2 linked regions of the Homo sapiens genome follow. The protein of the gene in region 1 purifies or fractionates together with the protein of each later gene. This does not show direct contact. Each region holds a gene or a part of one and is shown in the gene's direction. Other genes may lie near its edges.

Region 1 (3,820 bases):
TTAGAAAAATTGACTTGCTTTCTTGCTAGGCTCATTGAGAAAATGTTGAAATGATAAGAATGTTAATTCGGAAAAAAGAAAATGGGTATTTATTACTCTAGTGATTGAACACTGGTTAGTTAAGTGCTGACTGCCTTAGTACTTTGCTAGGCATTGCTTCAGTTTTTTTAAGTGTGAGTTTTGCATTTTCCCAAATAATATTCGTGGCATTCACCGCCACCACCAACTTACTTTTCTTTCTCTATTGATAGGATCCTCTTCTTCTTCTATGCTTCAGTGATCATAGAAAACTTCTAAATTGAGTACTTTGATTTTACAGGTTTCCAAGCTAGACTCAGTCGCCTTCATGGAATGTCTTCAAAGAATATTAAAAAATCTGGAGGGACTCCAACTTCAATGGTAGGCATACTTTTTCTGTGTAATTGTCATGTTTGGAAATGTTTCCATTTCTATGGAATAAAAAGCCACATCCTCATCCTTTATTCATATTCTAATGTTAAACTTAAAAATAATCCATTTTTTTGTAGGCTACAAACTGGACCAGTGAGATTCCCCTATAAACCAAATCTTCTAATGCTAATAAATTAGTTACGTTTTGAACATCTGGGGAATGACATTCGAGGGAACCTGGCTCCTGTCCTCTTCCCTGGAGGAATATCATTGAAGTGAGAGCCTCTTTGATGAAAAGATGGGGCTGTTTTTGCTGGAGGACTGGTATTCTTCCTTTTAGTCAGAAGTGAACCTGACTGGGGAGGCTTTCTAGGGATTTAGGTTGGCCCAGGGTGGATAGAAACTACTGTAAATTATATATTTTTCTCTTTTATGGTTTTTTTTTTACATTGAATCCATTTATGTATACTTGCTTTGCCAAAATGCTAACAAAGCTAGAAAATTTTAAACTTCCAGATCGACAAGTATTCCTTAATGTTTATATTGTGACTGATTAAGAATTAATTTTTACATATCTGACTGTTGTAAATAAAAATCATGATGCATTGACATTTATGGTTCATTTTTAGAGAAGTCTTATATAACCAGCATTATTTAAAATATTTGCATTTTACTCAGGGTATTTTAACAAGGGCTAAGATGAGTAGTAGGTAAGGTTGATAATCTTTGCTGGAGTTTGTATTTTGTTCAGCTTCCTTTCTACTTGGGTAATCTGCTTGTATTGCAAACTCATTGTATTTTATAGTATAGCTTTCATTGTACTGCAAAAATCATCCTCGTTTTAAATTAGCCACAGTGATAACTAGTCTGCACTAGTAGAATCATTTACCTTTTAAATTATCTGCTTTGTCTGATACCTGAAACACATCAAAATTATTATTTTGGTTTAGAGCTTAATGAAACATGTGAAAGCTGGTATTTTTAACAAATGCTGTGTGATTCTGAATCATATTGTCATGTTTAAAAGTGAGAGCTGCTTGTACATCTTTAGAATGGCAGACCATATGTGTCACTGTGAGTGTCAGAAATACTTGCATGAGCTCATTTTCACCAACTGGGGGGAAAATGTAATGTTTCTATTGATGGTATAATTTAGACACTATAATAAGTTCAGCCATTTGAGTTCTTCAAAATGGTTATATTAAAATGATATTTTTATTAAGCTTCAATAATGAAAAACAATGTGATTTAATATGTGTATTTTTATATTATTGTATGGATTAATTGTTAATTCAGCATTTAATGGCTAACTTAAATATGATTGGAAAAGAAACTTCAAGTTGCCATTGCTTTTACCTAAAGTTTTTAAAGTCTGAAAGATTTCAGCAAATGCATTAAACAGGAATGTGTGACATCTTCTTTTAGATTGCTTGTCTAATTTGGAGAGATTAAAAATGGTAAAATGCAACTTTGAGTCTCTTTACCTTTGCATATTTAAAGGTACAATAGTGTGGTGTTGGTAATTGTAAGTAAGCTTTTCTGTGCTATGTCTTTGGAGTGAAAATTCATGTTTTTTTTCTGAATTACATAAATGCTTTTGTTTTATTTTGTATAATGACTGTCTTTTAGATCTGAATAAGTCACTTTAAAACCTTGGCCTATGAACTTTGCCTTATCAATCATGAATCTAGATGAATGCTATCTAGTTCTTGGTTCAGTTTTACCTATTTTTATTTTTGGTTCACTGCTTGCTTGAGCATAGCTGGGATTTGTAGCCCATTTTCTAGGCTTATTGCAATCTCACTGTGGTATTTTATAGAAGCTATTACAACTGATAGGCTAGCTTCATGGTATTGATGATACATGGCTTAACCATACTAAAAGCTGCTTTCCCTCTCTAAATTGTAAAAAGGTGATGAAGTTTCACTTGATGGAGACATACTATATATGTGTGTTTATCATGGAACTAGTGCATTAGGCCATAAGCTGTTTTTCTGGTCTATGTTTTTTGTATTTAAAACTTTACTGAAGACAATGGACTCCTTCGGGTTTTCTTTCTTTCAACCCTGAATTGTCCTTGTTTGAATTTTTAAGTACTGTAATTTTTTTTTTTCAATAAAATCTCTGACTTGGGCAAGAAAGGTAAGAGTTCCAATTTGTGCTGCTATTTCTCTGATTTCATTTGCTAAGTTTTCATTGTTGTTGTTGTTGCTTATGCTGTTTATATTATGTATAACTATAATATCTAGTTTTAAAAATCATAATCTCACAAAACAGTCATCTTTACACAGTATCCATGACATCTGGTAATAAGAAGTGAAATTTAATTGCCTTAAACTTTCACACTGGAAAGCCAGATTGTTTTTAAGAGAGATTAATTTTCTGAGCAAAGTAAAACACATGGAGCTGCAACCCATTAAACAGAAGGCCAACAAAAGGTTTCTTAAGCAGATGAATGATGACTGCATAAATATAATGATGTAGTATCTTTGAAGGAAATGACAGAGGAAGAATCTTTTACTGAAATATCAATGTAAACATTTTTTGGGGGAAAGTTTTCAGTTGTATTATAGTTGATTCTGACTATTTGCCATAACTGTATTCTATACACTTGCTGAAAACATTGAATTAGGGAATACTGAATCATGGCTCCTAAGGGAAAGACAGGGTTAGGTTCCTGGAAGCCTCTGGTCACAACATTTTCACCAACTGATCAATAGATAACCTTGTTTTGTTTATGTTTGTGTTTAGAGACATTTAATATATATTGTTGACTTACTAACATCGAACTCATGGCCAATAGCACTATAACTTACGGCTGAACAAAGCTTATCAAGTCTTTTCTCTATAAGGCACATCCCAGCCTTCTTGCACTTAGGAGCACTAGACGGCATTTCTCAGCACTATACAAGGGGCTATTTAAAACAGAATAATCACCCACAAAAAGCACAACAATTCAAAAAAAAATCTGGTACTAATTTAGACTACAAAAGGGACATATGTTTACAGTATGATAGTTTAAACGAGTAGGAAGAAAGTCACCTGACTGACCTCTGGTAGGAATGCACGTGTATGTCGGGCAACTCAACATTTTTCACTGCTCTGTACATGTTACTGAATGACTACAAAAGTCAGAAATTGTGAGTATTGATTTTGGGGTTAACAAATAAATTTTAGCAGGCAGGCCGACTTAAAAATATGGAATCCACAATGGGAACGAGATTGACTGTATTTAGTTTTATAGAGAGCAAAGTGATATTGCAGAAAATTTATAGATTTTGAAGTCAGACCTTTGTGAATCCACACTCTGATTCTTCTTTTTAGTTGTAGTTAGATTTTGAACCTCCTTCCCTCCTTTTGTTTAATACCAACAATACTTACTTTTGCATAAGTGTCGTCAGGTTTTTAAATGAGATTGTGTATGCATAAT
Region 2 (3,820 bases), about 58 Mb from region 1:
TAGAGCTCAATGATGTGAGCTCTCATTAAATTCCGGAGCCTTGCCCCTGAATCCACTGCGCATTGTCCCGAAGGCAGGGAGCTGCAGAGGAGATCCATCCAATGCTACACATAGGAGCTCGGCCCAGAGAGGGAAAGTGACCTGTGCAAGTTCCCAGAGAGAGTTGACAGGGTTGTTGGGCCCCGAACCCAGGAGTTCTAAGGCCTAGCTCCATCTCTGCTCTCCCCGCCAGAATTTTTTTGTGGAGAGTGGAGGAGCAAGGTCCTAAGACGGGGAAAGAAGCAGACTTTACCTTTCTTTTCCCCAGCAATCTCAGGTGAGCCCAGGGCCAGGGCAGTACAGTGGGAAGCCTTGAGGGCAGACAGCAGGGAGAACTTCCGATACTGACAGCAACTGAAAAGAGGAGAAAGAAAGCTAGGAAGACATTTTCAAGCCCAGAGATTGTTCTGTCTTGCCGTGTGGGGAGCAGTTCTGCAAAGTGTCCCCGGCCTTCTCTTCCTGGGGCTCGTAGGAAGTCTGTGATTGGGCAACCCTGCTTCTCATGAGGTGCTCAGTCCCGCTCACTGCCCTCCTCTCAGCTCTCCCACCACCCAAGGCCCAGGAGCCCCTCCCCAGATCATGCCTTCTGGCCCTGCCCTTTGTGCTGAGGCACCACAAGGCACAACATGGTGCCTTGGAAAAGCCAGTTGGTGGTGCTGAGGGCATTAATGAGGATAGGGGTGCCTGCTGGGGTTCCCTGGGCAGGAGAAGGGAAGCTTCTCCTCACAGATTGTAGAACAGGAGGAGGCAGATGGGGAGTTAGACATATACTGGGAAGAGCTAGTCCTGGCTCATTGGCCCTTCAGTCAAATTCCCCTGAGCTGGGCTTCCAGCTCCACCTTCACTAGTTCAGGTTGAATTCCCTGGAAGAGCACAGGTGGCAGGCGACTCTTGTCCCTAACCCCTGCTTCCCCTGTAGTAGCTTCTTCAGCCTCCAGAACCAGAGCAGGTGGAGATCTCAAAGAAGGTGGCACCCCAAGGAAGTAGAACCCCAAAGACCCCAAACCCTGAGCACATGCCCTTCCTGCTGGGGTTGGGGAACTTGCTATGTATTACTCTGTTTTTCTTCTCCTGCCCACAAAATTCCTTTGCATAGATGGTAAAACTGAGGCAAAACGTGGGAGGACTTAGACTGCCCACCCACTTCTTTCTAGAGCCCAGCCTGGGACCAAGGGGCTTGGCATCCCGCAGCCCCTCCCGCTCCACTCCTACCAGTCCCCGTGGCTTTTTCCATTTGGAAAGTCCTTTCTGGCGAGTGGCAGGTTTGGAGGCCCTAGTCTAGTCTCCTCCCCTGTCTCCTGGGCAGTGCCCCCAGGGGAGCCCCTGTGGGCCAAGATCTCCTTAGTCTCAGTCCTGGGCCCCCCTCACCCTCTACCAGCAGTCCCCCAGCTCCCGCCCCTCGGCTGTGGGACAGGGAGAGGGCTGAGGGGCTGGCTCTGCATACTAATGTCCTGCCCATTGTCAAAGCCCCTTTGTGCCAGGGAGCTCCATTGAGGCGGCTCCGGGGCAGGCACAATGGGGGCTCTGTCCCCTAGTTCCCCCAAACAGTCACCTGCTTTCAGAGCCTTCCCCACCACCCCCCCTTCGCCCCAGTGTCCGGAGGGCCCAGAGAGCACGGGGGAGTGGGCCCTGGGCCAGGGGGGATGGGCAGGAGGTGACTCCCCCACTCTCTGGGCAGGCTGGGGAGATGGGCATTTGACAGGGCAGGCTGCAGAGGGCACACAGAGGGGAGAGGCCCTAGGCTCACAGGGGCAGGGGCAGTCTGTGGAGGAGTTGGAATGCAGGTTCTCTGAGGCCTGAGAAGGGGAAGGGGCACTCAGAGCCTGCCCACTTCTCGGTTCCGTATGCCCAGCCTGGACCTGTGGCTGCCACCTCTCCTCCTCCCACTACAGGACTCCCCGGGGCTCATATATGCAGAGACACACAGGCATACACTCATCTATGCGGCCCCACACACGGCTCCCAACACACACCCAAACGGATGTGCCCAGACACAACACACTGACCCCAGCACACAGATCGCACGTCCACAACACCACCTCCTGGCATATGCACCTGCACACCCACCCTCCCTCCACCCCACCCCCCTTTCCCTTTTGCACCCCCTCCACGGCCGCAGGCATCTCAGCACCATGTCCCTCCCCCCCATGCCCTTGCTGCCCTCTGCTGCTCTGACACTGGTTATAACAAGTTTGCACTTGTTGTGACCTTAAGAATGTGGCCCTGGGGCTAAGAATGTCCCGCTGCCCCAGACTGCACCTGCTTATACGTTAACCATGGACACAGCCTCTTGCTGCACTCTAAGCAATGCTCCCATTCCTGCCTCAACCATGGAAGCAGTTAGGTGGGCCAGGCCCCCCACCCCAGAGCTGAGTCAAGTACCCTGGACTGAGCTCTATGTGAATAACTAAAGCCCCACCTGGCCTCGCTGGCACAGGTCCAGTGTGTCCGTCTTTGCATTTGCCCAGGGCACATAGATATTTCCTAGCCCTTCCTGGCCCTGGGAGGTAGATGGAACAGTTATCATTTTCCCAGCAAGGCTCTGAGAGGTAAGATGATGGTGTCCAGGCAGCTGGTGGCAAGTCTGGGACTAGAATGGAGGTCTCTCACCGCTAGTTTTTTTGTGTTTTTCCCCCAACTATTTGTCTCTTGGTTTCACTCAGATGACCCCACCCCCAACCCTATCTACAATTCCAACAGAGCTGTCTTTTAGCCACCTTTTTTTGGGAAGGAGTGGGGGCATGGTGAGGGGAAGGGGTGGGGAGAAGAACGGGTCTAGGAGCCTTAAGTGGGCTTCTGGGTCTAGAAAGAACCTCCGAAGGTCACTTTGACCCTTGCACTACCCCTAGGCAGAGTGAGCCTACCTCCTTTCACTTCCCACCCTCCTACCGGCCCCACTCCTGCTACGAACTCTGGATCACTGGAAAGTAACCCCACAGCCTTCTTAGCTAGGGTTTGGAGTTGGGGATCTCTATCAATTATAAGTCCTTCATGCTGCCTAGTACTGGCCTTTCCAGTTATTATCCTACGTCTGCACGAGGATCTGTAGGCTGTATCTACGGCTCACCTGCTATTCTGGTCCAGAGCATCTTCTAGCAGTTGGGAGCAGATGCCCTAAAAAGGGAAGAGAGGAAGGCCCATTGGGATCCCAGAGACTTGAGGGCTGACTGCACAGTGGTGTGCTGGGGCCTGGGAGGGTGGATGGGGTCACAGTTGCAGAAACTCTGTTAGATAGAGAACTAAGCTGATATTGGTTTGCTCATCAGCAAATATTATTGAGTGCTAATCTCCATGATGTTTCCTCCCATCAAAATTGCATGGGAGAACCTCAGGGCCCTTCTACTCCTTCTCCTTTCCCCTCATCTAAAATGCTTCCCCTCTGGCTACTGGATTCTCCTTAAGCCGCCTCATCCATCTGTCTTCCTTCATGCAGGAACACACCTCCCCCAGCCCTTATACTCTGGTGTGATTCTTTTGCTCCAAATGTTCCCTACTGGAGAAAGAGAACTGCTCAATGTATGTAACTTCAGCTTTCCCTGCTGTGCTCGGGCAGTTAGTTACTATAGGAGACAGAGGACAGTGAGACACTCACCTCTGAATCTAGTTCTGTATCTAGTAAGTGTCCTCATGCCATCCCTACCCCATCCTCCTTCTTAAGGGAGGAATGTGGATAAGGAATAAGTAAAAAGTTGAGAGGGGGCAGAGAGATTGCCTCCCAGAGTCATGGTGAGCTCCCTAGACTCCTCTGAGTGAGGGTCAGAGGCTGCTCTTCATGCAGGGA

Evidence for each region.
Region 2: the proteins of GPATCH2 (region 1) and KCNJ10 purify together in Homo sapiens (affinity purification with mass spectrometry; one large-scale study listed by BioGRID and IntAct). This does not show direct contact.

What each region holds. Positions count from the first base shown.
Region 1 is NC_000001.11:217,606,900-217,610,719, reverse strand, and holds part of GPATCH2 (G patch domain-containing protein 2), read left to right. Parts: intron 1-319; coding exon 320-399; intron 400-527; coding exon of another isoform or gene 528-560; exon of another isoform or gene 561-2,531; intron 2,532-3,820. UniProt on the Homo sapiens protein: Enhances the ATPase activity of DHX15 in vitro.
Region 2 is NC_000001.11:160,060,062-160,063,881, reverse strand, and holds part of KCNJ10 (ATP-sensitive inward rectifier potassium channel 10), read left to right. Parts: intron 1-3,820. UniProt on the Homo sapiens protein: May be responsible for potassium buffering action of glial cells in the brain. Inward rectifier potassium channels are characterized by a greater tendency to allow potassium to flow into the cell rather than out of it.